5 separate regions of the Homo sapiens genome follow, and regions 2, 3, 4 and 5 are each linked to region 1. Evidence: fine-mapped expression QTL. A gene starts in region 1. Each other region holds a variant in brackets. All regions are shown on one strand. Distances are between the middles of the regions.

Region 1 (5,981 bases):
CAAAGGCAAGGAGATAGATGTGCAAAGGGATTGAATGAGCGACTTCAGGATACGCGATTGGAAAAGCAGCAGAGATAGTACTGGAACCCAAGTCAACCTGGTGAAAGAGTCAACATACAGCCCATTGCTTTCAGTCCCTTTTTCCCTCTCCATGAGGTTTTTCCCTCATGGAGAAAATGAGGATTCTCTTGCTGCCTGCATTCTACTGAGTGTTCATCACTTTAGATAGATGATAGTAGCTGAAGGCATGGGGTAGGTGAGATCACCAGGGAAACATACAGAGAAGAGAGAAAGGCCTTGGGAACAAGCCCTAAGCTCAGAAATGGGACACCTTCCCAGGTCGGGGCTGGTGGAGAAGAGGCAGCATCAGGGAAAACACAGTGGAGCTAAGCTTGGATCTGAACATTAATGGTTGAGAAGGAAGGATGGAGAAGTGGAGGTGCGAGAAGAATGCCACAAGCAAAGGGAGCAGCATTTGCAAAGGCATATCAGATGCAAGAGACAATATGTTACCTTGGAAAATCAGCAAGCGATTTCAGGATGGCCGCAGCATAGGGTGCATGCGTATGTGAGTATGCCTGCCTATGAGTGCATGCATGTTTCTGTGTGTAGGTGTGTGAGTGTATCTGTGTATATCTGTGTGTCTACATGAGTGTGAGTGTGTGTTCAGAAGGCTGGGGTGATGAGACCCTAGAGAGGAAGTACAAATATCTCTTCAAGATAGAGATTTTATTTCATTTAGGTATATACTCAGAAGTGGCATTGCTGGATCATATGGTAGTTCCATTTTTATTCTTTTTCTTTGGGTGGGGGGAACTTCCATACTCCTTTCTGCAATGGCTGTACCAATTTACATTCTGGCCATCCATCAATGTACAAGGGTTCCCTTTTCTCCACATCCTTGCCATCCATCCCTTATAAAGGTTTATGATATTATGGAAAGAGTCTGGAAACACAGTGAGATCTGGAAACAGATCCCTGAAATTCAGCTAATCAGTAGAAACTTTATCTGGAAGGTAATGGAGAGCCTTTGAATTTCTTTTTTGATAATTACAAAAAATGATAAAATGAAAACAAGGCTTTCAGAAGATTCTTGGGCTGGATGGTTTGGAGAAGGTAGGGGCAGGAGAACAGGAGACCAGTTGGTAGGAAAGTATAATAGTCAAAGTGGGAGGTGATCAGCATGTATATGAGCATAGCAGCTATAGGGCAATGGCAGATTTGAGGCTCACTGGTATGAGAAACATGAGACAATTCATGAGATTATCTGAGAAAGTCTATTGACTCCCACCACCACCCAGGTTTACTGAGGTATGATTGAAAAATAAAAATTATCTATATTTAGGGTGGATAATGTGATGTTTTGACATACATGTACATTGTGAATGATGATCACAATCAAGCTAAATAACAGATCCATCACCTCACATATTTACCTTCTGTGTGTGATGAGGACATGTGAGACTACTCTTTTAACAAATTTCAAGTATATAACATGTTATTATTTACTATAGTCATCATGCTATACATTAGCTCTCCAGAACATATTGATCTTACAACTGAAAGTTTGTGGCCTTTGACCAATATTGTCCCCTTTTTGCCCACACTCCAGCCCCTGGTAGCCACCATTCTACTTTTTGTTACTATGAGTTCAACTTTTTTTTAAAGAGTCGACGTATAAATGAGATCATGCAGTACTTGTCTTTCTGTGTCTGGCCTATTTCACTTAGGATAATATTCTCCAAGTTCATGATGTTACTGCAAATGACAGGATTTCCTTCTTTTTTAGAGCTGAATAATATTCCATTGCAGATATATACACACCACATTGTCTTTACCCATTTATCTGTGGATGGACACTTAGATATGTTTCCACATCTTGGTTATTGTGAATAAACTGCAATGAACATGGAAGTGCATCTCTCCCTTCAAGACAGAGATGTTCTTTTCCTTTTTTTTTTCTTTCTTTTGAGATGGAGTCTCACTCTGTCACCCAGGCTGAGGTGCAGTGGTGCAATCTTGGCTCACTGCAACCTCTGCCTCCTGGGTTCAAGCAATTCTTGTGCTTCAGCCTCCCGAGTAGCTGGGACTACAGGTGTGCACCACCATGCCTGGCAAATTTTTGTATTTTTAGTAAAGATGGGGTTTCACCATGTTGGTCTGGCTGGTCTCCAACTCCTGACCTCAAGTGATCTGCCCGCCTCAACCTCCCAAAGTGCTGGCATTACAGGCGAGAGCCACTGCACTCGACTGAGATTTTATTTTCTTTGGGTGTATACTCAGAAGTGGGATTGCTGGATCACATGGTAGTTCTATTTTTATTTTTGGGAACCTCCATGCTGTTTTCCATAATGGCTGTACTCATTTACACCCCACCATCAGTGTACAAAGGTTCTCTTTTTTCCACATCCTTGCCAACACTTGTTATCTTTTGACTTTTTGATAATAGCCATCCTTACAGGTGTGAAGTGATATTTCATTGTGGTTTTGATTTGCATCTCCCGAATGATTAGTGATGTTGAGCATATTTGCATATACCTGTTGGCCATTGTTGAACATTCAAAGCAACAATTTAAAAGCATATCCTTACGTCCTTCATCAATTTACAACAAATATTTACTGAGCACTTATACTGTGCCAGGACTATGCATGGGAACCCCTAGCCCAGTGTAGAATCCAGACAAGTAACCAGGCTTTTGCAACCTAGTGTTGCAAGGGCCCAGAAATCAGCAACCACAGAAGGGGATAGAGGCAGTGGAAGCACCGAAGCCAGTCTTGAAACATCTGGGCCAGCTTCCTATAGGAGGGGATTCTAAGCTGAGAGACACAGTGTGCGGAGCTAGGAATCCCCATGTGTGTAAGATATGGTTTCTGCCTGGGTGGGTGGGGACAGACAAGTAGATGACACGATGCTATTTGACACAGGAATGCAGCTAAGCCATGCATATATATATTATATCTTTCTTTAGTCAGGAAAGAAGATTCTCCTTTGAGCAAATTTACTCCTTTTAAGAAGGCCGAGCTATTTGGAAAGATGCCCACCAGGATGGCAAAGTGGTGCTTGAGCCCTCCCTGCAGCACACGCCCAGGACTTTGAAGCAGGGACAGGGTCCTCCTGGCTACTGAAAGGAATCGAGTTAACGCGCCCTAGTGGCAGGTGGCGAATGGCCGGAGATCCGGCCTCCCAGTGGTGTCCACCGCCACGGGCCTCCGCTCGACAGGCTTATTTCCCTCCATGCTGGAGCAAACCCCGGCTGAAAGAGGGCCGCACTAATTGGTTTGCGTACCCGAAGTGGGAATAGAGAGGGAGGAAAACCATGTTTCAGGTGTTACGGGGGGAAAAAAGTGAAATGCGAACCGCAGGGGAGAGAGCGACCGTCAGGCAGACACCTTGTGAACCGCGGTGGAGAGCACACCTAGGTGGGGAGGTCACCGGCCCAACCCACCACCCTCCGGGAGAATGCGGGCAGGGACAGCAGCAGGGGGCAGCATCCACGTCTCTACGCTTGCAAGGGTTCCCCAAGTCCCTGGCCACTGCTCCCCACTTCCTGCAGCCTCGGTGTCCGCCGGGGGCGTGTGTGAGGGGCGGGGCCGCATGGGGAGGAGGGATTTAAAAAAAAAAAAAAAAAGCGAGGTAATTAGCATTCTCCGATTCCACTGGCTCTCCGCCGCCCCTGCTTTGCATACGCCCGTCCCACTGGCTGCCCGGGGTTTGCTGGGGTTCGGCAAGGTTTGCAGCCGCCACGGCCGCTGCTGCGCTCCGGTGCAGGGCAGGCTGGCGCCGAGCGAACCAGGGCCGGGAACTGGGAGCCGGGAGCCGGGAGCCAGCTGCCCGCGGAGCTGCGGCGGCGGCGGCATCTGGGGTGGTCTCAGTCCCACGAACACCGTGGCCGGCGCCCGGTGGCTACTGCGCCCAGCGGGGCTCAGGGAAGAGCGGTCTAGACACTTTTTATTTTGGAAGAAAGGGGCAAGCCCCGGCGGGAGCTTCCTTCCCGGCCTGGCTCGCTCCCCATTGCGCCCAGCTCCGGCCCGGACTCTGGAAGATGACTCCAGGGTCTGCTCTGTATATTCCAGCGGCGGCAGTTCCGGGAGGCAGCCGAAAGTACTAACAGTTGGTAGCAGCGGCTAGTGGAAAAGTGAGCCAAGGCGGCGCGGACTCGGCTCTCCCCGCGCCCCGCGGCACTCGCTGCTCCTCGCCGCTCCTTCCCTTTGGCTCCCAGGCGGCTGCAGCATGAAGTGGCGCAGCGATGGCCAGGAGAGGTAAGAAGCCCGTGGTGAGAACGCTGGAGGATCTGACGCTGGACTCGGGTTATGGTGGCGCGGCGGACTCGGTGCGCTCCTCCAACTTGTCTTTGTGCTGTTCCGACTCGCACCCGGCGTCCCCGTATGGCGGGAGCTGCTGGCCGCCTCTAGCTGACTCCATGCACAGCCGGCACAACAGCTTTGACACTGTCAACACTGCCCTGGTGGAAGACTCCGAGGGGCTGGACTGCGCCGGCCAGCACTGCTCGCGGCTGCTGCCGGACCTAGACGAGGTCCCCTGGACTCTCCAGGAGCTGGAGGCGCTGCTGCTGCGTTCGCGGGATCCCCGGGCAGGCCCGGCGGTCCCCGGCGGCCTGCCCAAGGACGCGCTGGCCAAGCTGTCGACGCTGGTGAGCCGGGCGCTGGTGCGCATAGCCAAAGAGGCGCAGCGCCTGAGCCTGCGCTTCGCCAAGTGCACCAAGTACGAGATCCAGAGCGCCATGGAGATCGTGCTGTCCTGGGGCCTGGCCGCGCACTGTACGGCGGCTGCGCTGGCCGCACTGTCCCTCTACAACATGAGCAGCGCCGGCGGCGACCGCCTGGGCCGCGGCAAGTCGGCCCGCTGCGGCCTCACCTTCTCCGTGGGCCGCGTGTATCGCTGGATGGTGGACAGCCGCGTGGCGCTGCGCATCCACGAGCACGCCGCCATCTACCTGACAGCCTGCATGGAGAGCCTCTTCCGGGACATCTACTCGCGGGTCGTGGCCTCCGGGGTGCCCCGGAGCTGCAGTGGCCCTGGGTCAGGCTCGGGCTCCGGCCCAGGCCCGAGCTCGGGCCCTGGTGCGGCCCCCGCGGCGGATAAAGAGCGGGAGGCGCCCGGGGGAGGAGCGGCGAGCGGCGGCGCCTGCAGCGCAGCCAGCAGCGCCAGCGGGGGCAGCAGCTGTTGCGCCCCGCCGGCCGCCGCGGCCGCCGCAGTCCCGCCGGCAGCCGCCGCCAACCACCACCATCACCACCACCATGCGCTCCACGAGGCGCCCAAGTTCACCGTGGAGACCCTGGAGCACACGGTCAACAACGACTCGGAGATCTGGGGTCTCCTGCAGCCCTACCAGCACCTGATCTGCGGGAAGAACGCCAGCGGTAAGTGTCTGCGCGGGTGCCACTCCCTCTCACCTAACCTGGCCAACTCTTGGCGCAAGTTTGCCTCGCGTCCCCCTCCCGCGTCTTCCCAGCCACGCGCTGCTGTCCCAAGCCGCTGAGGAGGCGGCCGGGCTGGAGGTAGCCAGAACAAGAGGTTGCCTGTTTGCTCCTGCACTCGGGTGCGCGTATTTCACGCTGCTGGTGCTGTCCCAGGTCCGGGAGCGCGAGGTTCCGCCCCCGGTGCGGGGCGGGGCGACAGCTGCCTCCAGCAGGCAGTGAGCAAAACCCAGCACCATTTTTTGGAGCAGGGTTGAGATCATTTGCGCTTAGTACATATACTCCACCCCTGCACTGTTTGTTTTGACCTTGAAGATGCCACTTCCCTGGGCGCATGAATTGGGCTCCCTAGGACTTGGGAGGAGGCGCGTTCCGCTCTCCGCAATCCAGTGCTCCCACTTCCCCACTCCCTCGGGGGGCACGCAGTGCACGGGGGAAGGAGGGGCCTGGCGGCCGTACCGGCTGAATGGTTGAAAGCTTGCACGGCCTAGACAGTCGTAAAGGTGTGTGTGGTGAGACTGGGGTGCGGGAAGACTTGTCGG
Region 2 (5,000 bases), 84 kb after region 1:
CAGAAGCCCAGCTGGCTGGAGAAGAGGAATGCAGCGGTACCCACTGAGCACATTCTCCAAGAGTGATTCTTTTTTGAAGATATTTAAGTAACACAGTGCCACAATGGTTGCTAGGATCGTGAACAAAGGATGTCAGGGAACACTGTGGAAACAGGATCTCGAGAAGCTCCCCAAGCAGGGGCACAGCACCCCACCCCCCAAACCCATTCCCTCCATTGTTCAAACCTGGCTCTGCCTCTGTCTTTGAACACCAGACTCATACTCAGGGCTGGGAGTGGAGAACACTTGGTAACAGGGGGACCCAAGGATGCAGAAGAGTCCAGGCACCCATCTCCCCCTCATTTTGGGCATGAGCTCATTGACTGAAAGAATGAGTGGAATCACCTGACAAAAAATGATGATAACAATTACTACTACTATGATAGCAGCTACGATTCTGTGTCCAGCACTGGCCCACATGCTTTACATATTTTTTAAAATTTTATTTTATTTTACTTTAAGTTCTGGCTACATGTGCAGAATGTGCAGGTTTGCTACACAGGTATACATGTGCTATGATGGTTTGCTGCACCTATCAACCTGTCATCTAGGTTTTAAGCCCCACATGCATTAGGTGTTTGTCCTAATACTCTCCCTCCCCTTGCCCCCGACAGCCCGACAGGCCCCAGTGTCTGATGTTCCCCTCCCTGTGTCCATGTGTTCTCATTGTTCAACTCTCACTTATGAGTAAGAACATGTGGTGATTGGTTTTCTGTTCCTGTGTTAGTATGCTGATGATGATGGTTTCCAGCTTCATCCATGTCCCTGCAAAGGATACAAACTCATTCTTTTTTATGACTGCATAGTATTCTATGATGTATATGTGCCAGATTTTCTTTATCCAATCTATCATTGATGGGCATTTGGGTTGGTTCCAAGTCTTTGCTATTATGAATAGTGCTGCAATAAACATTCGTGTGCATGTGTCCTTATAGTAGAATGATTTATAATCCTTTGGGTATATACCAAGTAATGGGATTGCTGGGTCAAATGGTATTTCTGCTTTACATATTTTAACTTACTCGATGATATGTATATGATCAACACTCAAATGGGCCCATGATGAGATGCTTAGGGGGCATTCATGACCAACTCAGGTTGCCAGGCCTCTCCACTGGGATTTCTGATTGAGTAGCTCTAGGTGGGGACCCAGGAATCTGTGTTTTTCACAAGTACTCAGGTAACCCTTATATACAGGTGGGTTTGAGAAACACTGAGTCATGATTTCTCTGTTCTTGTTTATGTTTGCTGAGCAGGTACAGTGACATTTGTGTCTGTTTGCATGCATGTGGCCATTCGCTTGAATTTCGCCTTTTCTAGCCCGAGTCTCCTTACCTGTACAATGGGAATTGTAATAGGATCTACTTCCTGCCATGTGTGAACATTCAGTGAGATGAAGTACTCAGAGCATGGTGTCTGGGATGTGGTAAGTGGTCAGTGTTACCATTGTTATTGGTTATGGCTGTTATTTAGGGACACGCAAAGTATACAAAGAGAGACTTACACCCCCCCGCAAGAGTGCTACCTGAGTGAAGTGACCTTTACCCAGTTCACTGCTGAGCTATGCTCAAGCTAATCTCCCTTCGCTGGTTTGTACAAGCAGATCCGGTGCCCAGAGGAAAATGGACTGGCAGTGAATTGATTACTTCCTGCCTCCCTAAGCAGCCTGGTTTCGAAAGGCCCTGGTCAAATTAAAATGCATTAACTGAGTTTGTCGAGGAGCGATCAGCCATCTGAGAAGGGCCGGTCCCTACCTCCTACCCACATGTGCCAGGCTGATGACCATGTCCACATTCACATGCAGGACCACGTAGTACCAAGACTTGTCTCCTGGCCGCATCTCAGCTCTCATGGAAACCTGGGGTTTGGTTCTGAGCCTGGAGACAAATGAGGTGGCTGTCTGTACCATGTTTCCCAATGGGTTCCTTTTCATGTGCAATATTTTCTCTGCCTATTGTAGAGGCTCAGCCTCAGAAAGCAAAAGCACAAAAAGGCCAAACCAAGAACTAGACCAACCAAAGGAAGCCAAGGGGAGGTGATTACGTAACCCCAGCAGCCAGGCTGTCTGCAAGCCGTATGACTTATTTAGCTGTCTGTCTTTTCGGATGTCAGACTCCATCCTTTCCAGCTGGCTCTCCGCTTTGGTGATTATATTAACACTCAGTAATTATAGGAAATGGACACCTCTCCAGTCACCAGCATTCCCAAGTGGCGGGATGGGGGATATTCAATACCAGGAACACCCCATCACAGGGGGTCAGTCACTGCCCAAGGTTTCAGTAGTCTGGCAAAAAGAGACAGAAATAATGGCACAGTAGTGAGTGCT[C/G]CCATGATGCAAAATGTATTAAATTTAAAGGCTGGTGCTTGATCTTGAGCGGATGCCCTGGGGTTAAAATGTCCTTTAAAAAATCCAAAATGATGAAGATGATTATCAGTGGTTGCCTCTGGCATTTTGACATAACACAAATTTGGCCCCTAATGTTAATCTCCATGTGGGGGAGAAATTCCTGACTGACGAAATTCTAGAGTCTGAGCATCACTGCTTTATACATAAGAAAATAACATAATAAGCAAAATAATAAGAAATAAAAGGAATCTTTTTCATTTTAAAATCCTATGTGTGTAGAGTTTTTTACCCTCAGCTTCTTCTCTTTATATAGTAGGTAACAACCGCTTAGGGTTTTTTTTTTTTTTTTTGCTGCCTTCTCCTGCCTTGCTTCCCTACCCTCTGCCCTCCTCAGAAGCCTCCCTGCCTGTTAGCCCAGTTCTATCTCGACTCCTAAGCTGGTCTTGATGGAGATCGGTGTAAAAAAGTAATTATGATAACAGCCACCATTTGCTGCTTTGCTTCATCTTTGCTATGTGCTAGTTACTTTATTCAATAAAGTGAATAAAGTGCAGCAACAATGGAAAGTGGACTCTTAGTAGTAGTACCAACCCTATTTTACAGATGGGAAAACTGAGGCTCAGAGAGGTTAAATCACTTACACAAAGCCACACAATTTTGAGTGGCAGAGCTGGAATGTGAATCCAGGCAGTCTGACCCTGCAGCTTATGTGCTTAACGATACTGCCTCTCATGTGGGCAAAGGATGGCCCAGGAGAAAGGCAGGCCCAGATTCCAAATCTGGCTTGACCGCCTAAGAGGCTGAGTCTTAACCTCTCTGAGCCTTTGCTGTTTCATCTGTAAAGTGGTCCTCCTGACAGCTGCCTCCTAGGGTTGTTTTGAGGATAAAGTGAAGTAATGGAGGGCCCTTGGGATATGGTACCCCATCTCCTTCCTCACCTGGATGGAAAGCCATGTTCCAGCCACGGCTACTGGCCTGCAAATGGCTTCCTGGGGCTTTTTGCTCTTATTCAGTCTTGCACCTTGCTCCCCCTAGTGCCAAAACCAAGCTGCAGCTCCCCTGGCTCCCTAAACATTGCTTTATTACCTCTCTCAAGCCACTGCCTCCGCCGCCAGGATTCTGACTGGTGGGAGGTTGTGGGCCTGCCAGCTCTCCTCACCTGAAGCCAGGCCTTGCAGACAGAATTCCTAACTAATGACATCCTTGCCCCTTCTGCTACCTCCTAAATTCCTCCTCTTTCTAGATTTGCAGCTCTATGACTGGCCCAGTCAATTGAATACCTGTGGACCAACTATTTCCAGGATAGTGACAGTGGCTTTTGAGTCTGTCCTGCTGCTGGCTTGTCCCCCCACCCACCCCCAGGCTGTGCTATTGGGAGGTGGGACAGGAGTACAGTAGTCACCAGCCACAACATGTCTTAGACATGGATCCTGCTCCTTCTTCTCCTCCATCTGCTCCAGGTTGTGGAGAGGGCTCCCACAGGCCTCGGACCCAAGTCATTCATTCCGATTGTGTGAATACCCTTTAATGAGGGACCTGTAATATCCCAGGCATGGTCTAGAGATCACGTATATCAGTGAATCCTCCTGGCTCCCTGTGAAGTGGGCCCCATTTACTTCCGTTTGACAGATGAGGAAACCAAGGCCTGGTAAGGGCAGAGAAATGTTCATATCGCCCATGGCCCATTAGTGACAGACCTGAACTTGCATAAGGCCTTCTTCATTATAATATCCCTGTGCCTGGAATGACACAGACCGAAAATGTAATGGGTTGTTTCACCGGGCTCTATTTCCAGAATCCATAGGAAGCTTGGCAGATGGGTGCTAAAGCTTCCTACCAGCTACTACATCTCCCTATCAGCTACCTCAGCCCAGGGAGTGCCTTCACCACTCCTGTGAGCCTCAGTTTACTCTTCCCACAATGGGCCTACAGATACCTAGTGATACTTCCTAGGGCTATAGGGAGAATAAAATGAGATCATGTCTGTAAACTGTGTGTCAACAGTACACTTCATAAATGTTATTCACCTTATCCTTGACAAAAGCTTCCACCGATACATTATTCTTGTTTTTAAAAACTTACAGCTATCTGGGAGCACAGACCAAATGGTCAGGGAACACTTTGCAGTCAGGCTTAGCTGAAAGTCGCAGATCCCAGAGGGCAGAGGAAAACTTCAGACAATGAAGTTTGGAGGGTCCACCTCTCCAAAGGGCCACATATTTCCTAGGGAACTCTAAAAATGCCAGGGAGAGACCCTCCTTTCCTGCCCCCCTACCCAAATCAGAAGTAAACAGCATATGGCCGGGCGCGGTGGCTCACGCCTGTAATCCCAGCACTTTGGGAGGCCAAGGCAGGTGGATCACCTGAGGTCAGGAGTTCGAGACCAGCCTGGTCAATATGGTGAAACCCCGTCTCTACTAAAAATACAAAAATTAGCTGGACGTAGTGGCAGGCCCCTGTGACCCCAGCTACTTGGGAGGCTGAGGCAGGAGAATTGCTTGAACCCGGGAGGCAGAGGTTCTAGTGAGCTGAGATCACGCCACTGCATGCTAGCCTGGATAACAGAGAGAGACTCTAACTCAAAAAAAAAAAAAAAAAAAAAAAAAGGAAAAGA
Region 3 (5,000 bases), 63 kb after region 1:
AGAAGGACCACAACACACACTTGACGCTCAAGAAGGGTGGGAAGAAGATAAGTGAATCATCTGGTAGGGAAGTAAAAGGGAACCATGCAAAGCGAAAAAGTGGGGAACATAATCTCATTATGGACTTCGGGAGACCAAGCCATGTGTAAATTTCACAAACACCAGTGGAGTGCTTCCTTTGTGCAAAGCCAATGCCAACGGCTGGAATATTAGATGATTCAGCTGTGGTCCCTGTCCAGAAAACACTTGTGACTCAACCTTGGGCATGTCCCTTAACCACTTTCTTTGGCTTGGCTATAGGCAGACATGGTCTCTTAACCTCAAGTCACTTAAATATTGGGGGATGATGGGATTGCTTCCTCCTGGCATCTTCCCTGCTCATCCCCTTACTTTGCACATCATTTGGCAATGACTGCACCACTGCCACCACAAATTGCTATTAATTATTGAGCACTCACCATATGCCAGGACCTGCGCTTAAAGCAATTTATGTACACTATGGTATTTCATCCTTATAACAACTCTATAAGGCAGATACTGTCCTATTTTATACATGAGGATCTGAGGCTCTGGGAGCATAGGTAATTTGTCCAAGGTCTTATAGCAAGTAAGTAGGGGAGCTAGGGCTGTCCAACAATGCACCCCATCCTCTTAGTCCCCTCCACCTGGAGAAGCCCACCAGTTCATGTTTTTGGCTCTCACCTTGTCCCCTTACGGCCCTCATTCCCCTTGAGCTGTCTAGTTCTGCCTCCACACACTGGCTCGCCTTCCCTGTTTCCCTTGTCACAACGCATCCTGACTGTTCATGCCCAAACCTACAACTGTGCTGGCTCCCTCTGTCTTTGGGACTAAGAATGGATCTTCTGTCACTTGTGAAAACGTCCCCTGATGGGTCTTTGGCTGCATGCCATGCCCTGTGGACAAGCATTGGGGTTCCCTAAGAGGCTGTAAAATAGGAGTCACTGGGATTCTGCCTGCATCTGATGTGAGAGCCACCCCTGCTTTTGTAGCACAGAGTAACAGATGGTGCCAGAAGGAATTTAAGAAGCCTGATTTTTGCTCACAGCAGCAGGCAGTGTGGTGTAGTGGTTAAGCACCAGAGCCATCAAAGTTGACATCCTGGACTTACCATGTACCTGCTGAATGACCTTAGGCAATTTACTGAACCTCTCTGAGCCTCCCTTTGCCCTTCTATATAATTGGGATAATAGTAAACTCCCATAGGGTTGGTGGAAAAGTAGGTGAGACATTGCATTTAAAGCACACATTGCTCCACCTGGTGCAGAGTAAGGGCTCCATAAATGGTCCTGGTTGTTGGCATTGCTCTTGGTGTTAGTAGACCAGTTGATAGGGTTTGTCTGTGTCCCCACCTAAATCTTATCTAGAATTGTAGCTCCCATAATCCCCACGTGTCATGGGAGGGACCTGGTGGGAGGTAATTGAATCATGGGGGTGGGTTTTTCCTGTGCTGTTCTTGTGATAGAGAAGAAGTCTCACGAGATCTGATGGTTTTATAAAGGGCAGTTTCCCTGCACACACTCTCTTGCCTGCCGCCGTGTAAGACGTGCCTTTGCTCCTCCTTTACCTTCCACCATGATTGTGAGGCTTCCCTAGCCATGTGGAACTGTGAATCCATTAAACCTCCTTTTCTTTATAAATTACCCAGTCTCAGGTATTTCTTCATAGCAGTATGAAAATGGACCAATACACCAGCCACAAATTGAGTATCCCCCACATCCCATCCTCTCTCATTCCTTTTCTTCCTTCCTCAATATTAATCATTACCCACTACCAGCAAAGCCTAGTGCTGGGACAGTTGGAAACAGAGAGATGACAAAGACTGACTCAGCCTTGAGGAGCTTACAGAGCCCTCTAGAAGAACAAGGGTCAGTTGGACAAGCTGCCAGGAAGCCTTAGCTTTGAATCTCGGCTCCACTCCTTGCTCCATGTCCTTGGATCAGGTTGATTTATCTGGGCTCAAGTTCCTTAACTGAACGATGGGCTTATATTCACCCCAACACCTCACAGTGTTGTGTCTGGCTGCAGTTCAGAAGGAAAGCAGACCTGCAGCCATCTATCCACCTTCCAGCGGAACAGATTCTCAGGCCCCTTGCAGCCCTGGCATTGCGCGATGCTGTGATTC[G/A]TCTGTGACCCTTAAAAGACCTGCCCTTAACTCCCGGGGTGCAGTACAGCAGTAGAGGTTCTCAGCACCAGCAAACGTGTTCTGAACTGAGCGCTGGTAAACAGAACCAGTGTTTACGAATGGGTGTCACTGGCCTGCTGCTTTGCGTTTTATCACCGAAGATTATGGAAGATTGGGAGCTCTTATTTCAGAGCATGCTTTATGGTTTTCATTACTCTCCTGAATCTCTGTATAATTTGCTGGGATTAGGGACGGAGTGCCTTTGTTTCTTTGTTTGCATTCTTTTCCTTCCATGTAAACCAGTAAAAATCAATAAAAAGCCAGCAGATGAAAGCCCCGCCCACACCAGAACTTGGCTGCGTGTCCCAACATGACTGAGTTGGCCCCTTCTTGGTCAGGGAACAGGCTGAGTGAACCTGAACCTAGGTTTTTGTTTCTGTGTGGTCTGAAAGAGGACCACGCCCTGTATTTACAGATGGGGAAACTGACACCAAGAATTAGGAAATGACCTGTCTAAGGCTGATTTACCTAGCATCTACTGAACCCCATGCCGAGTCATTTGACAAATTATTTTGGGGTGCCTGCTGAGTGTAATTAGCAAGGATCAGGGAGTGGCTTTGTTTCTTTGTCTGCATTTTTCTTTTTAACCCTGAGCTGAGCTGCCATTCTGTCACAATAGTCTCTAAAACAGGGTACATGCGTGAATGTGCACGAAAGGGCAAGAGGAATGTTTTAGAACATTTTTCTCATCCTTTTAGTATTTATATACTTTATGTATATTTTATAATGACCTATATTATATGGTAGTACAGCAGTATATTATATACAATGTTATATATGCTATGTATATGTCTCTAATATTATACTATATATTCAGTTATAGGTTTGGTATAATCTATAATTAAATATATAGTCACATATCAGAGAGGTATATATAAGAATGGTAGGGATGTGTGATCAAAACTGTTTGGAGACCACTGGTTTAATGAATGCATAGCTGTTCCTGACCATTCTGTCTACACTACCCACCCCCCATCATTACTCTCTTTTCCTCTATTCTGCCTTTGTCTTCATCATTCTCCCTGATATTATATTGCATTTTTGTTTATGGTCTGTTTCCTCTATTAGAAAGATAGGTCTGCATAGGTGGAGACTTGGGTTTGCCCACTACTGTCTCCCCAGCACCTAGAAGTGCAGGCTGGGCACTCAGGGGCATGTGCTAAATACTTGCTGAAACAAATGAATGGATGTGGAGCCTCTGCAGACAGGTGAACACACATGCCCCACAAGAGTGTGCTGTGTACAGGGTTAGGGCAAGGGCAGAGTAATCTGGGGATGCCAAGTGGGCATCTGATCCAGCCTGAGGTATGCAAAGGGGCTTCCTAATGAAGGGCTGCCTACACTGGCACCCAAAGGCTGAGGAAGGAGTTGGCCAAGAAAGAGGAGAGCTCCGGGTAGGAACAGCAAGGGCAGATACAAGAGACTAGAGAGGGCAGCGTCTTCCTCAGGGCTGGGCAGTGTCAGGGAATTAATGGCAATGGATGAGGCTGGAAAGGAGATTAGATCTGTTCATCAAACACTTCCACATTGTCTTCAGGAGTTGGGGCTGTATCCTAAGGGCAGGGGGAACCATTCTGACTGCAGCATGGTGTGGTGTGTGGAGCATGGACTAAGAGGCCAGACCTCTGGATTTGCATCCTGGCTCTGTTATTTGTCAGCTCTGTGACTTTGCAGTTATTTAACCTCTCCTGCCTCAGCTCCCTCAGCTGTAAAATGGGGATGATAATAGGATCAGCCTCAGCAGGGCATTGGGAGGATTAAATGAGCTAATTTATGTAAATCGCAGAGATAGCTCTTGGCATGTAATAACTACTCTATATGTGCAATTTATTATAACTCATTCAACAAATGTTTATTGAGCCCCCTATGGTCTCCAGGCTGGAGATACAGTCGTGACCAAATCATACCTAAACCATGGAGCTTGCATTCTAATTAGGGCAGAAAAAAACAATAAATGAAGAAATAAATTAACAAGAACAAATTGGCCAGCAATAAGACCAAGAAGAGAATTAGAGTGGGGATGTATAAAGGTGATGGGACTCCCTCAGGTTGGGCATTCCATAAGGGCCCCCTGGAGGAGGTGACTTACTAGGAATGAGTTTGGATGCTTTCGAAGGCCTGCAAGGATAAGTGTGTTTGCCATATAGTGGGCCCAGGGGAGGGAGGCTTTAGGAGAGATGGGCCAGGACCTGGCACACAGGGCTTGTCTGTCAAGGGAAGGGGTTTGGGTGCAAAGCCACTAGATGTTTCTACGTGTGGTGGGATTTGGCTCCTTTTTAAAAGATCCTCTTTGTAGCAATTGTGAATGGGAGTTTACTCTTGATTTTGCTCTCTGTTTGTCTATTATTGGTGTATAGGAATGCTTGTGATTTTTGCACATTGATTTTGTATCCTGAGACTTTGCTGAACTTGCTTATCAGCTTAAGGAGATTTTGGGCTGAGACTATAGGGTTCAGCCATAAAAAAGGATGAGTTCATGTCCTTTGCAGGGACACGGATGAAGCTGGAAACCATCATCCTCAGCAAACTAACAAACGAACAGAAAACCAAACACTGCATGTCCTCACTCATAAGTGGGAGTTGAACAATGAGAACACATGGACACAGGGAGGGGAACATCACACACTGGGGCCTGTTGTGGGGTGGAGGGCTAGGGGAGGGATAGCATTAGGAGAAATACCTAATGTAGGTGATGGGTTGAGGGGTGCAACAAACCACCATGGCATGTGTATACCTATGTAACAAACCTGCATGTTCTGCACGTGTATCCCAGAACTTAAAGTATAATAATAATTAA
Region 4 (6,043 bases), 350 kb after region 1:
TTTCACAATGATGCCTTCAGCAAAACAGGCTCCCAGCAGGAAACCAGATAAAAGCGTTAGAATGAGGCTTCACCTATCTCACCATGAAGATGGCATCTCTCTAGATCATTGCTACATGACTACCATCTCCTTTTTGGTTTGGGGTTTTTTTTTTTCACTTTTTATTTTGAAACAATTACAGATTCGCAGGAAGTTGCAAAGATAGTACAGAGTAACCCAATGGTAACATCTTAGATAAATTTAGTACAATATCCAAACCAGGAAGTTGACATCGCTACAATGTGTGTGTATGGTTCTGTGACATCTTGCCACGTGTGGATTCGTGTAACCACCACCACTGTCACTCTTCCCTCACCGCAAAGATCTCCCTCATGCTACCCCTTTGGAATCACTCTGGCCCTTCCTCCACCAACTTCATCCCAAACCCCTGGCAACCATTAATCTGTTTTCCATCTCTATAGTTTTGTTATTTCAAGAATGTTATGTAAATGAGACCATATAGTAAGCAGCCTTTGGAGATTGGTGTTTTTATTATTATTATTATTATTGACACACGGTTTCATTCTGTCGCGCAGGCTGGAGTGCAGTGGTGTGATTTCAACTCACTGCAACCTCCGCCTCCCAGGCTCAAGAATCCTCCCGACTCAGTCTCCCAAGTAGCTGGAACCACAGACATGAGCCACCATGCCCAGCTAATTTTTATTTATTTATTTATTTATTTTTGTAGAGATAGGGATTTTACCATGTTGCCCAGGCTGGTGTCAAACTCCTGGGCTCAAGCAATCCTCCCACCTCAGTATCCTGAGTAGCGGGACAACAGGCATGCACCACCACTACCAGATCACTTTTTAAAAAAATTTTCTGTAGAGACAGGGTCTCGCTATGTTGCCAGGACTGGTCTCAAACTCCCGAGCTCAAGCAATCTGTCTGCCTCAGCCTCCCAAAATGCTGGGATTACGGGTGTTAGCACCTCAAACGGCGAGACTGGCTTTTTGCACCCAGCAGAATGCCTCAGAGACCCATCCAAGGAGCCTGCACGTATGGAATGCTTGTTCCTTTTCATTGATGAGTAGCATTCCCCGGTATCCTGTCACCTTTTAACCAGAGAGAGACAGGGGCTTTCTCTGTCACCCAGGCTGGATTACAGTGGCGTGGTCACGGCTCACTGCAGCCTCAACCTCCCCAGGCTCAAGCTATCCTCCAACCTCAGCCTCCAGAGTAGCCACAGGTGGAAGCCTCCACGCCTGGCTAATTTTTTTATTTTTTGTAGAGATTAGGTCATACTATGTTGTCCAGGCTGCTCCCAAACTAGGTCTTTCTGTAATTGATGACTTCTAGACATCTCACTGATGGTGTAGGGCAGTGCTTCTCGAATTTGTTAAAATGACTCCATGGGGCTGGGGTGGGGCTTGAAATTCATTGTTTCTAACAAGCATCCCAGCGCTGCTGCTGCTGCTGCTGGTCCAGGGACCTCACTTTGAGTAGCAAAGGTGTGCAGTCTGGAAGTCAGAGATTCATCTCAAACCCTTTCTGCTGCCAGGCCAACCTGTGACACTTGTTCTGTCACCTGGCCTTTCTGGAGTCTCAACCTTGAGGGTTATTACGAGCCTTTCTTTCTGACCCAGGGGAGACGTTTTCACAATGCATCTGAAAAAAAATCATTTGAAATTCTATCTTCCAAAACCAAACACCGCATGTTCTCACTCATAAGTGAGAGATGAACAATGAGAACACATGGACACAGCAAAGGGAACATCACACACCAGGGCCTGTCGGGGGGTGGGAGCAAGGGGAGGGAAAGCATTAGGACAAATATCTAATGCATTCGGGGCTTAAAACCTAGATGACAGGTTGATGGGTGCAGCAAATCACAGGAAGGAGAACATCAGACACTGGGGCCTGTCGTGGGGTGGGGGGAGGGGGGAGGGATAGCATTAGGAGATATACCTAATGTAAATGACAAGTTAATGGGTGCAGCACACCAACATGGCACATGTGTACCTATGTAACGAACCTGCATGTTCTGCACGTGTACCCTAGAACTTAAAGTATAATTTTAAAAATAAATAAATGTAATCCTGTCTTCCTAGGTGGAGGGCTCTAACAGTCTGAATTAAGCTAAGGAATTACTCACACATAACCTCACTCTACCTTACTTTTCCCTGGTCTGTTGTTTATCTAAATCAAGTTTATTTATTTCACGGGTATTTACTGATGCCCTAATATAAATGAGAGACCCACTCCTGTGCAATGGCATTAACCAAAGGTAACCAAAGGTGACCTCATCCCTTTTCTTTGTCCTGTTTCCTTCAGGGTTGGCGGCAGAAGGAAAAGAAAAGATTCCTGTTTATTTTCAGACTATGCTTCGAGGCTTCTCTCTGCACTCACAGAGCCCCCTGGGGTGGCAGGGACACCCAGGAGAATCAACAAGGGAATAATCAAAGCTGCTGCCCCTTCCCTGTTCACTTCACAACACTTTGATAATGGAGAGGGACGCTGGAGTATCTGGTTCAAAATGGCTGCTGGGTGACCCTGATACTTCTCAGTTGTATGCTATGGGGAATGAGTGGGTGGGGAAGAAGAAAAAGTGGTAGGATTTTAATCCATAATTACTCATTATTTTGTTTACTTGTGAAGGGAACGACTGCATTTTTGGCACTTCAAAGGACTTGCTTTCATACATTAAATATTTTGTTTGAGGAAGGGAAAAGCTCAGATAGTGTTTTCTGTTGAATAAGTAATGAGAAAGTAAATGAAGTCTGTTTTTTCTAGAAATTCCTTGAGCCAAGGAATGATTCCTTGCCCCTAAAATGTGAGGATTTCAGGTGACCAGTGAGTTTAATGTAAGTCAGCTGCATAATGTGGCTGCTTAGAAGCCCATAATGTAGCTGTGGGCTACATTAATAGAAGCATGATTGCTAGAATGATGGAGGTGATGGTGCTCCTCTGTGCACTGGAGGGCTCTCTGCTGGAATTATGCACTCAGGTCATGTCCTGTATGAGTCAAGGTTTCTAGCAGCAAGCAACTCTGGTTCATTTAAGAAGAAAGAGGGTTTATTCGAAACTATTAGAGGATTACACAGTTGTTGGGAAGGCTGGAGAAACTATTAAAGGCAGAGCCTTTTGGAATAACTTACAAACCACGACAGAGTGACAGAGTGAGACTCAAAAAGAAAAAAAAAGAACAGCCAAAGGAACTGGGATGTTTGGCCTGTAGGAGGGAAGACTTGGGTGACCATCTTAATTTTAGTTGTCTTCATTGCTGCCACTGCTTCCACCAAATGATATGGAGGCAGAAATCACTAACGGCATTTCTGTAGCTCCCAGAAACTTGGCTTCAGTGACTGCTCTTTCCACAAGCACCAGTGTCATTCCTACATCAGGAACTCAGCCGACCCGAAAAAGCTCAGTGCTTCTGCCTCTACTTGCACTACATAATGGAAGCTCCCATCTCCTCATGTTGGCCCTTTAGTATCAAAATTTCACTGGGTACATCCACATCTGACAGGCAGAACCTAGGTCCCATGCCTGCACCTTAGCTGTAGGGAGGCTGGCAGTTTCAGTTCTTGCCACTACATTAGGGAGATAGGAAATCTACTGTGTGATTTCTACAAATATAGAAAGATGGTG[G/A]GTAGCCATGAACATGACAAATGGCCCCTGTGCTTGACGAAAGTCACAGAGAAAATGCAGCCTCATCAGAAGGGAGTAACCAAAGGTGAAAGAACAGCCAAAGGGGCCAGACGTGGTGGCTCATGCCTGTAATCCCAGCACTTTGGGAGGCCGAGGTGGGTGGATCACTTGAGGTCAGGAGTTTGAGACCAGCTTGGCTAACATGATGAAACCCCATTTCTACTAATACAAAAAAACAAAATACTAATACAAAAACTAGCCAGGTGTGGTGGTGGGCACCTGGAATCCCAGCTACTCAGGAGGCTGAGGCATGAGAATCATTTGAACCCAGGAGGCGGAGGTTGCAGTGAGCTGAGATCATGCCGCTGCACTCCAGCCTGAGTGACAGAACGAGACTCAAAAAGAAAAAAAAAAAGAACAGCCAAAGGAACTGGGATGTTTGGCCTGTAGGAGAGAATACTTAGGTGACCATCTTAATTTTAGTTGTCTTCAAATAGCAGAACAGGCTTCATAGATAAGAGGAATCGGGCTGAGTGTGGTGGCTCCTGCCTGTAATACCAACATTTTGGGAGGCTGAGGCAGGAAGTTTGCTTGTTTCTAGGAGTTCAAGACTGGCCTGGACAACACAGTATGACCCCATCTCTGCAGAAAATTTTAAAAACATTAGCCAGGTGCAGCGGTTCATGCCTGTAGTCCCAGCTACTCTGGAGGCTGAAGTGGGAGGATCACTTGAGCCTGGGAGGTAGAGGCTGCAGTCAGCAGCGATCATGCCACTGCACCCCAGCCTGGGCAATAGAGCAAGACCCCCATCGAAAAGAAAGAAAAGAAAAGAAAGGAACTAGCTTGTTCAGTATCATAAAAAGGATAAGAGCTGTCCCAGCGACAGACCCTTCAAGGATTTAGATTTCACCTAAGTATAAATAAGAACTCTTAACAGTCAGAGCAAAGCTTTTCAAAGATGGAATGAGGAGGTAGTAGTGAGTTCTCCATGACAGGAGCCATTCCAGAAAATGCTAGCCAACCCCTCGATAGAGATTCAAGCAATAAAGGGAGTGTAGAATTTAAAGGTTCCTGACAACTCAGGGGTGTTGTCGTTACTAGTTCTCTCCTTCTGATACACATCATCTGGCCTCAGAAAATGAATATCAATCTTGATATAGCTTACGTAGAATTTGTAATGACCTCCCAGCCTTCATTTTTTGGCCACTGCTGCATTTTATTTCAGCACGCCACCCTATTTATCTTCATCAGGTTGTGAGGCAGCGGATCAATTCATTATTCTTACTTATCTAATACAGAAGGAAGAAAAATTGTCCACAAAACCTTACCAGCTGGGAAGGGAAAAAGTAGCTAGAAGCAATTCGGTCACTGAAAAATAGAACTTCTTTTTATAAAGAAAAAAATGCATTTCAGCAAAACGATCAAGTTAGGGAAGGGCCATTTTTGAGAGTGGGATGAAATCCAGGTATGTGAATTTGCACACGTCCACCACATCTCATATGCATTTTTTAAACTGGACTCAACAAAGAAAAACCATGAGTCATGCATTGGTTTGGCATAAGTGGCTGGTGAGTGAGGTCTCCTGTCCGCCTCAGTCTTCCCTCCTGCAGAATGGGAATGTCATTACATTAACATGACAGGTGATGGAGAGGCACTCTTGCAGCAATGGTGGTAAGGGACAGCTCTGTCAAAATGCAGGGAGAAGCAAGAGGGAAGAGAGGGATTTTCTGTGCCCTGGACATGGCCACCTCCGATTTTATCATGGGTTGGTTAATTTCACCTCCCCAGCAGCCTCAGGTCCCCAAAGGCCAGCAGTGGCTCTGTAAGCCATCAGCCTGAGGCAGTCTACTGGCTGCACTCTTAGTCTACTCTGGAGTATGAGGATTCATCCACCAGGCTCCAGTTTGATTCACGGCACTCTCTTGACAGCCTCATTCCCCAGAGTCCCCGAGGACCCCAGCATTTTGTTCATCTCCTGCTCTGAGCTCTTCGGGAGGGAATGTGACTATGTGACTGTCAGCCAGTTGTCACATTTCATCCCAGAGGCAGTGGAAATGATGCCTGAATGCCATGCCTCTGTGTGCTGCATCGGAGATGCCTCTATGTGACTGAAACATCATGGACGATTTTCAGTACATGGGAGGCTGTTCTTTTCCATTCCTTTATATTTTGTGCTCATCTTTATATGCCTTTATCTTCCTTCTCATAATAAATCCTATATGGTAAGAATTTTGATTCCCATTTTTACAGATAGGGAAACTGAGGTGGAGGCAACAAGGCTAAAAAGTGGCAGAGAGGGAATGTGGACCTAGGCTGACCTGACCTCTAAGCCCAACTCTTTGTGGTGCCTCTTCAGTTACAATGCCTCCTCTAAAGAGAGAGGGGAGAGAATAAGATGCTTCTCTCCTCTCCA
Region 5 (5,000 bases), 150 kb after region 1:
GAGGAAGAAGCATTTGAGTGGCCTTTGAAGGATGGATAGGAGTTGGCTGGACAGTGAGAGAAGTTGGGGGCATTCAAGGCACAGCATGTTCACCATATCGTCTTTCTGAAAGTCAAAGAATTTTGAATCTGAAACACCTCTGGCCCCAAGGGCATTGGAAATGTGATTGTCTATTGTAGTGTCTAACTCACAGTGTCTTTGAGGAGGATAAAAGTCAGGGTATTCAAATGAAGGGCTCAGAACTGTCCAGCCAACACGTGGTGAAACCTCAATAAACGGGAGCTGTCCATGTTGTTGGTATAATGAGCTCCCAAACTCTGAAACCCCTTGGTGTGAGAGTGTGGTCTCAAGTTTGCTGTCTGAAGAGTTGAGGTGCCTTGACCACCTAGCTGAGGTGGGCAAGTCATCCGCACAGCTGTCTGTTTTCGGCTTAGCTGGGGCCCACAAGAAAACGGGCCTTTGTATTTTGTTATTGTAGAATGTGCCGTTCCAACAAGCAGCAGCCGTGCCTACCTCTGGCCAGTGATCCCAGCAGGCATCCCTTGTCCCCCACAAGCCTGGTGTGGCCTGGCGTGGTATAGATAGCCTGTAAACTCCTGACAGCCTTGGCACCTTCTTGTCGTCAGCAACAACCAGAGCACTTGATAATTGTTCACGAATTGAATCTCACCTATTGACTCTAGGCAGAAGCCACTTCGAGACCCGCTTAGGAAACACCTGGATTCTGCGTTACTCCACAGCCACTGACACATGTATGTGCATGCACTCATACACACACACACAAACACACATTCACACACACATGCCAACACACATCAAGACCCAGCTATATCATGATCCACTCAGGGATCCAGAGAAACCAGCTTCTTGAAGCAAAGTTCATTTTTTCCTGCCTATCTCTGTCAGAGACAGGGACTTTAGGGAAAAGACCAGGAGAAAATGCTTCTGTTTACATCAAAGGTCCCTCCTTTTGTTTACTAAGAACTGTTTCCCACACGTTTTCTCTGACCGCTATTAAACAAACAACAGAGGCTTGCCTGGCTTCAGAGGGCTCAAGATGTGGCCACCAACTGATCCCTCCAGATGTGATCCGCTTCCATTTAGAGACCAGAAGAGGCCCCCCTCTCCCCATGTGCAGGAAGAAGAAAAGGAGGCACCTGCAGAGACCCCTCGTCATTGCCTTGGCTTGAAAGATTCTTAGACTTTGCTGAAATGCATCCATGGTTTTCACAACCGAGAAACGCCAGTCATCCTCTGCTCCCTGATTTTAGCTCACGAGCTGAGGTCAGCTGAATTAAGGGCAAAATGTGCCTCCCAGAAGGCTGGGCAGCAGGGAATTGGTGTTGTATTAATCAAGCAAAAAAGGGGAAAATCTGAAGACCAAGCACTCCCTGGCAAGAGTGCAGGTGAGCTGGAGCCAGCCGGCTGGGGTGTTTATTTTTCACTTCTGTGGGCCTGGCAGGAGGTAGGCACTCTTTTCCCTCTTATGCTGGGAGAGAGGGAAGCTGACCAGTCAGTGGCCTTGTGAGTATAAAGAGTTTAAAGGCGCTCCAGCTTCTAGCAGGAGACCACCAGGGCCACAGGAAGTTGCAGATAGCCAGGGACCTGCGTGTGAGTAGCTTGCTGCTGGGAGCTGCCAGCTGGGCACGGGAGACTTTGAGGGTGACCTTGAAAACAAACAATGCTGCTTCAAAGATCCACTGTGGTTGAGGCTGGGTGAGAGAGAACCATCTATAAAGACGGGCTGCGGATTGTGAGCTGAGGGGCATTCCATACTCAGTGGAAGGGAGCGCCCATTTCTTAGTAGTCCACAAGTATTTATTGAGCACCTACTGTGTGTTAGGCAGTGTTTTGGGCAAAGGAGATATAAAGATGAACAAGATAGGAAAAAATAAGTAAATAAAGACATAAATACTATAACTTCTGATGATGTCGAGTGCTATGAAAAAAATGGAGCAGGATATAGGGGCAGAAATGCAACCCATTTTCTAGGCATCTTAACCCATGATGTGGTACAGCAGACACGAGCAGGGTGGTATGACCTTGAAGGCTCACATCCGGGTCACACAACCATTCCGTGCCTCAGCTTTCTCATCTGTGAAAGGGGGCTGATCACTGTAGGGATTTCAGAGGTTCGATAAATAACACCTGTCCTCCCACACCCGCAAAAGTAGGCAGGAAGACAAGGATAACAACATCCCCTTGTTGATGGGTGAGGGCTGGGTTAAGGGATGTGGCTACCTGTGGGGCCTGAAGTGGGATTCCAAACACAGACCCCGGCATGAGACACTGTGACTCACCCCACTCCGGCCACCAGCAGCTCTGGACGGCCACAGGCCTCCCCTGCAGACATCTGCTTCTGATGGGACCCCAGAAGCAGAATGTGTGTTTCCTGTGGGTGGTTGGCTCCCAAAACCAGAAAACAGAGGTGGGAGGAAGGGGTGGAATTGAGCTTCCT[G/C]TAACCCTCACATCTGCTGACTCACCAATAGAGGCGTGAATGCAGAACCAGGTAGCCCAGGGTTCAAATCCTGGTCTGGCTCTGCCCTCTGCTAGGTGCAGGACCTTGGACAAGCTGTCCAGCCTTTCTGAGAGTTGATTTTCTCATCCCTAAAATGGGAACAGCACTGGCACCCATCTGATGGGGTTCCCATAAGGAGTAAGTTAGGTGATGCATGTCGGTTACTTAGGACAGTGCCCGTCATGTACGGGGGTGGAGAGGGCGAGGCATCAGACTGGCCTGTTCTCAAAGAAGCCCTCAACTCTGAAGCACAAAGCCACAGAGTTGAGGTTCCCCCAGCAGCAGGCAGTGCCCACCTCATAGGGTGGTTGTGAAGATTTGACTGGTTAATATAAGGACAGTGCCTGGCACACACGAGCACTTATTAGGTAATAATAGCTTGAATCATTTGAAGAAGTGTCAATATTCAATTTTTCTTCATCTACAAAAATGGCAACTTCAAATGGCAGTGATGATCCTTGTTCATCCGTCCTTCCTTTCTCTCTCTTTCTCTTTCTTTCTTTCTTTTCTTTCTTTCTTTCTTTCTTTCTTTCTTTCTTTCTTTCTTTCTTTCTTTCTTTCTCTCTCTCTCTCTTTCTTTCTCTTTCTTTCTTTCTTTCTTTCTTTCTTTCTTTCTTTCTTTCTTTCTTTCTTTCTTTCTTTCTTTCTTTCTCTCTCTCTCTCTCTCTCTCTCTTTCTTTCTTTCTCTCTTTCTTGAGACAGAGTCTTGCTTCGTAACCCAGGCTGGAGCGCAGTGGCATAATCTCGGCTCACTGCAACCTCCACCTCTCAGGCTCAAGTGATTCTCATGCCTCAGCCTCCCAAATAGCTGGGATTACAGGCGTGCATGGCCATACTTGGCTAATTTTTGTGTTTTTAATAGATATGGAGTTTCAGCACATTGGCCAGGCTGGTCTTAAACTCCTGACCTCAAGTGATCCACCCGCCTTACCCTCTCAAAGTACTAGGATTATAGCGTGAGCCACCGTGCCTGGCTGATCCTTGTGATTTCTTAGCAAGGTGCTTATGGTAGGGGCTCAAAAATATTTAGTTCCTTCCTCTCAAATAATCTGGTTGGGATGAGCCAGTCTGGGGTCCCAGGGAACATTGAGAGCCTACCCTCCCCACCTTCACTCGGGCCCAGTGTCCTTTGCCCCGAGGAGGGCCTGGCTGTCAGCCAAGCCACCCCCATCCCCAGGGTCACGGTGTGGGCAGTGCAGCCACAGGAACCAGCATGGACCCTTCATAGACCTGGATGCTCCCAACTTGTCACTCGGAGCAGAGCACACTGCCATCTGCAGGGTCACCGCTGGGCCTCGTCACTTATCATGATTGCTAATTAAAGACAAAATTAACCGACCCTGGCCTGGTGGCACCTCTCCCAATGCCTGGCTCTGGCTGGCTGGGCCTCAGTGGGGAAGGTCTGCCCCTGATACTTGGGATGGTGGCCAGAGCGAGGGGAGTGGAATCCCACCCAGAACGGAGAAGGTGCCAAGCCATCTGGAAAGCTGGGGCCAGCCCGACACCTCACCAGCCAGCTGGGAGAAATGAGATCTTGGGCCAATCTGGGGGTGACAGGAAAGGGAGGGTGAGATGTGGACGTCTTATTCCCAACTGTATCCCCAGCCCCTTAGAGCAGTTGTTGTTGTCAGAGAGAACAGATGTGATGTACTGAGCATGCCAGGCACGAAGGGGGCATTTGATAAATAATAAATTGCTGCGTGGCTTGATGGATGGGGCTGCAAGTGCATAGTCAGTGCTCAGCGTTTTCCGCATACACTTTCAGAATAACAAACCCCTCTATGGTGCTTTTAGTGAGGTGTTATTCTTAGCATTTAAATATATTCATTCAATGGTTCTCACCAGGACTCTATAAAAGATGTTATTTCCCCATTTTACAGATGAGGAAACCAAGGCACAAAGAAGTGAAGTAACCATCACAAGGCCACACAACCAGCAAGTGGTGGAGATAAGAGAGGTCACAAGATTTGGGAACATAAGGGATTATCTGGGTGAACCTAATCTTCCAGAATAGAAGTTGGCTTTTCATCTTCCTAGAATTTTAGGATTGGGTACAGAAGTACAGGCTCCCATTGCAGGTCAAGAGGAGAAAAAGGGAGAGGAAAAGAGAGGAGGTAGTTGTAGTAAAAATAACAGCTTATAGGTATTGAGCCCTTACTGTGTGTCAGGTTCTGTACCCAGCCCTTTCTCTGTTTCATTCTATTTAATCCTTAGAGTAGCAGTACTTTGAGGTTGGTGTGAGCTTTGCCTGCAATCTGTAACTTTTACAAATGAGGAGCATTACAAAATGACCCTGGCATCCCTGGCAAGAGACACAGAAGCAGCTTCCCCTCCATGACCCCCCAGGTCAGGCAGTGTCCTCTCTATGAAACAGGAGGAAGAACACCCCTCACAGAGCCGTGGTGAGGCTCAGGGGCTGAGTGGGCATTAACTCTGCCCCCGTGCCTAGAGTTCAGACTGTGGGCTCCCTTGCTCTGAAGCT

The links. PIP is the estimated chance that this variant, and not a neighbour inherited with it, causes the effect.
Region 2: its variant is the best candidate, but not a certain one, in a credible set for the expression of ABTB3 in esophagus mucosa (GTEx, PIP 0.84).
Region 3: its variant is the best candidate, but not a certain one, in a credible set for the expression of ABTB3 in esophagus mucosa (GTEx, PIP 0.61).
Region 4: its variant is the best candidate, but not a certain one, in a credible set for the expression of ABTB3 in whole blood (INTERVAL, PIP 0.69).
Region 5: its variant is the best candidate, but not a certain one, in a credible set for the expression of ABTB3 in whole blood (INTERVAL, PIP 0.56).

Annotation. Positions count from the first base shown.
Region 1 is chr12:107,314,694-107,320,674 of GRCh38, forward strand. ABTB3 (ankyrin repeat and BTB domain containing 3) reads left to right here and starts at 3,741. Exons shown (of 17, transcript NM_001018072.2): 1 at 3,741-5,382. The coding sequence starts at 4,248. RefSeq lists an enhancer at 4,243-4,962.
Region 2 is chr12:107,399,196-107,404,195 of GRCh38, forward strand. All of the region lies in intron 1 of ABTB3 (ankyrin repeat and BTB domain containing 3), which reads left to right. Among named protein-coding and RNA genes, the nearest start is that of ABTB3, 83 kb to the left of the region's middle. The variant C/G (reference allele first, on the strand shown) is at 2,366.
Region 3 is chr12:107,377,919-107,382,918 of GRCh38, forward strand. All of the region lies in intron 1 of ABTB3 (ankyrin repeat and BTB domain containing 3), which reads left to right. Among named protein-coding and RNA genes, the nearest start is that of ABTB3, 62 kb to the left of the region's middle. The variant G/A (reference allele first, on the strand shown) is at 2,144.
Region 4 is chr12:107,663,302-107,669,344 of GRCh38, forward strand. No RefSeq gene overlaps it. Among named protein-coding and RNA genes, the nearest start is that of PWP1, 19 kb to the right of the region's middle. The variant G/A (reference allele first, on the strand shown) is at 3,631.
Region 5 is chr12:107,466,844-107,471,843 of GRCh38, forward strand. The region is part of intron 1 of ABTB3 (ankyrin repeat and BTB domain containing 3); the gene reads left to right. Among named protein-coding and RNA genes, the nearest start is that of ABTB3, 150 kb to the left of the region's middle. The variant G/C (reference allele first, on the strand shown) is at 2,459.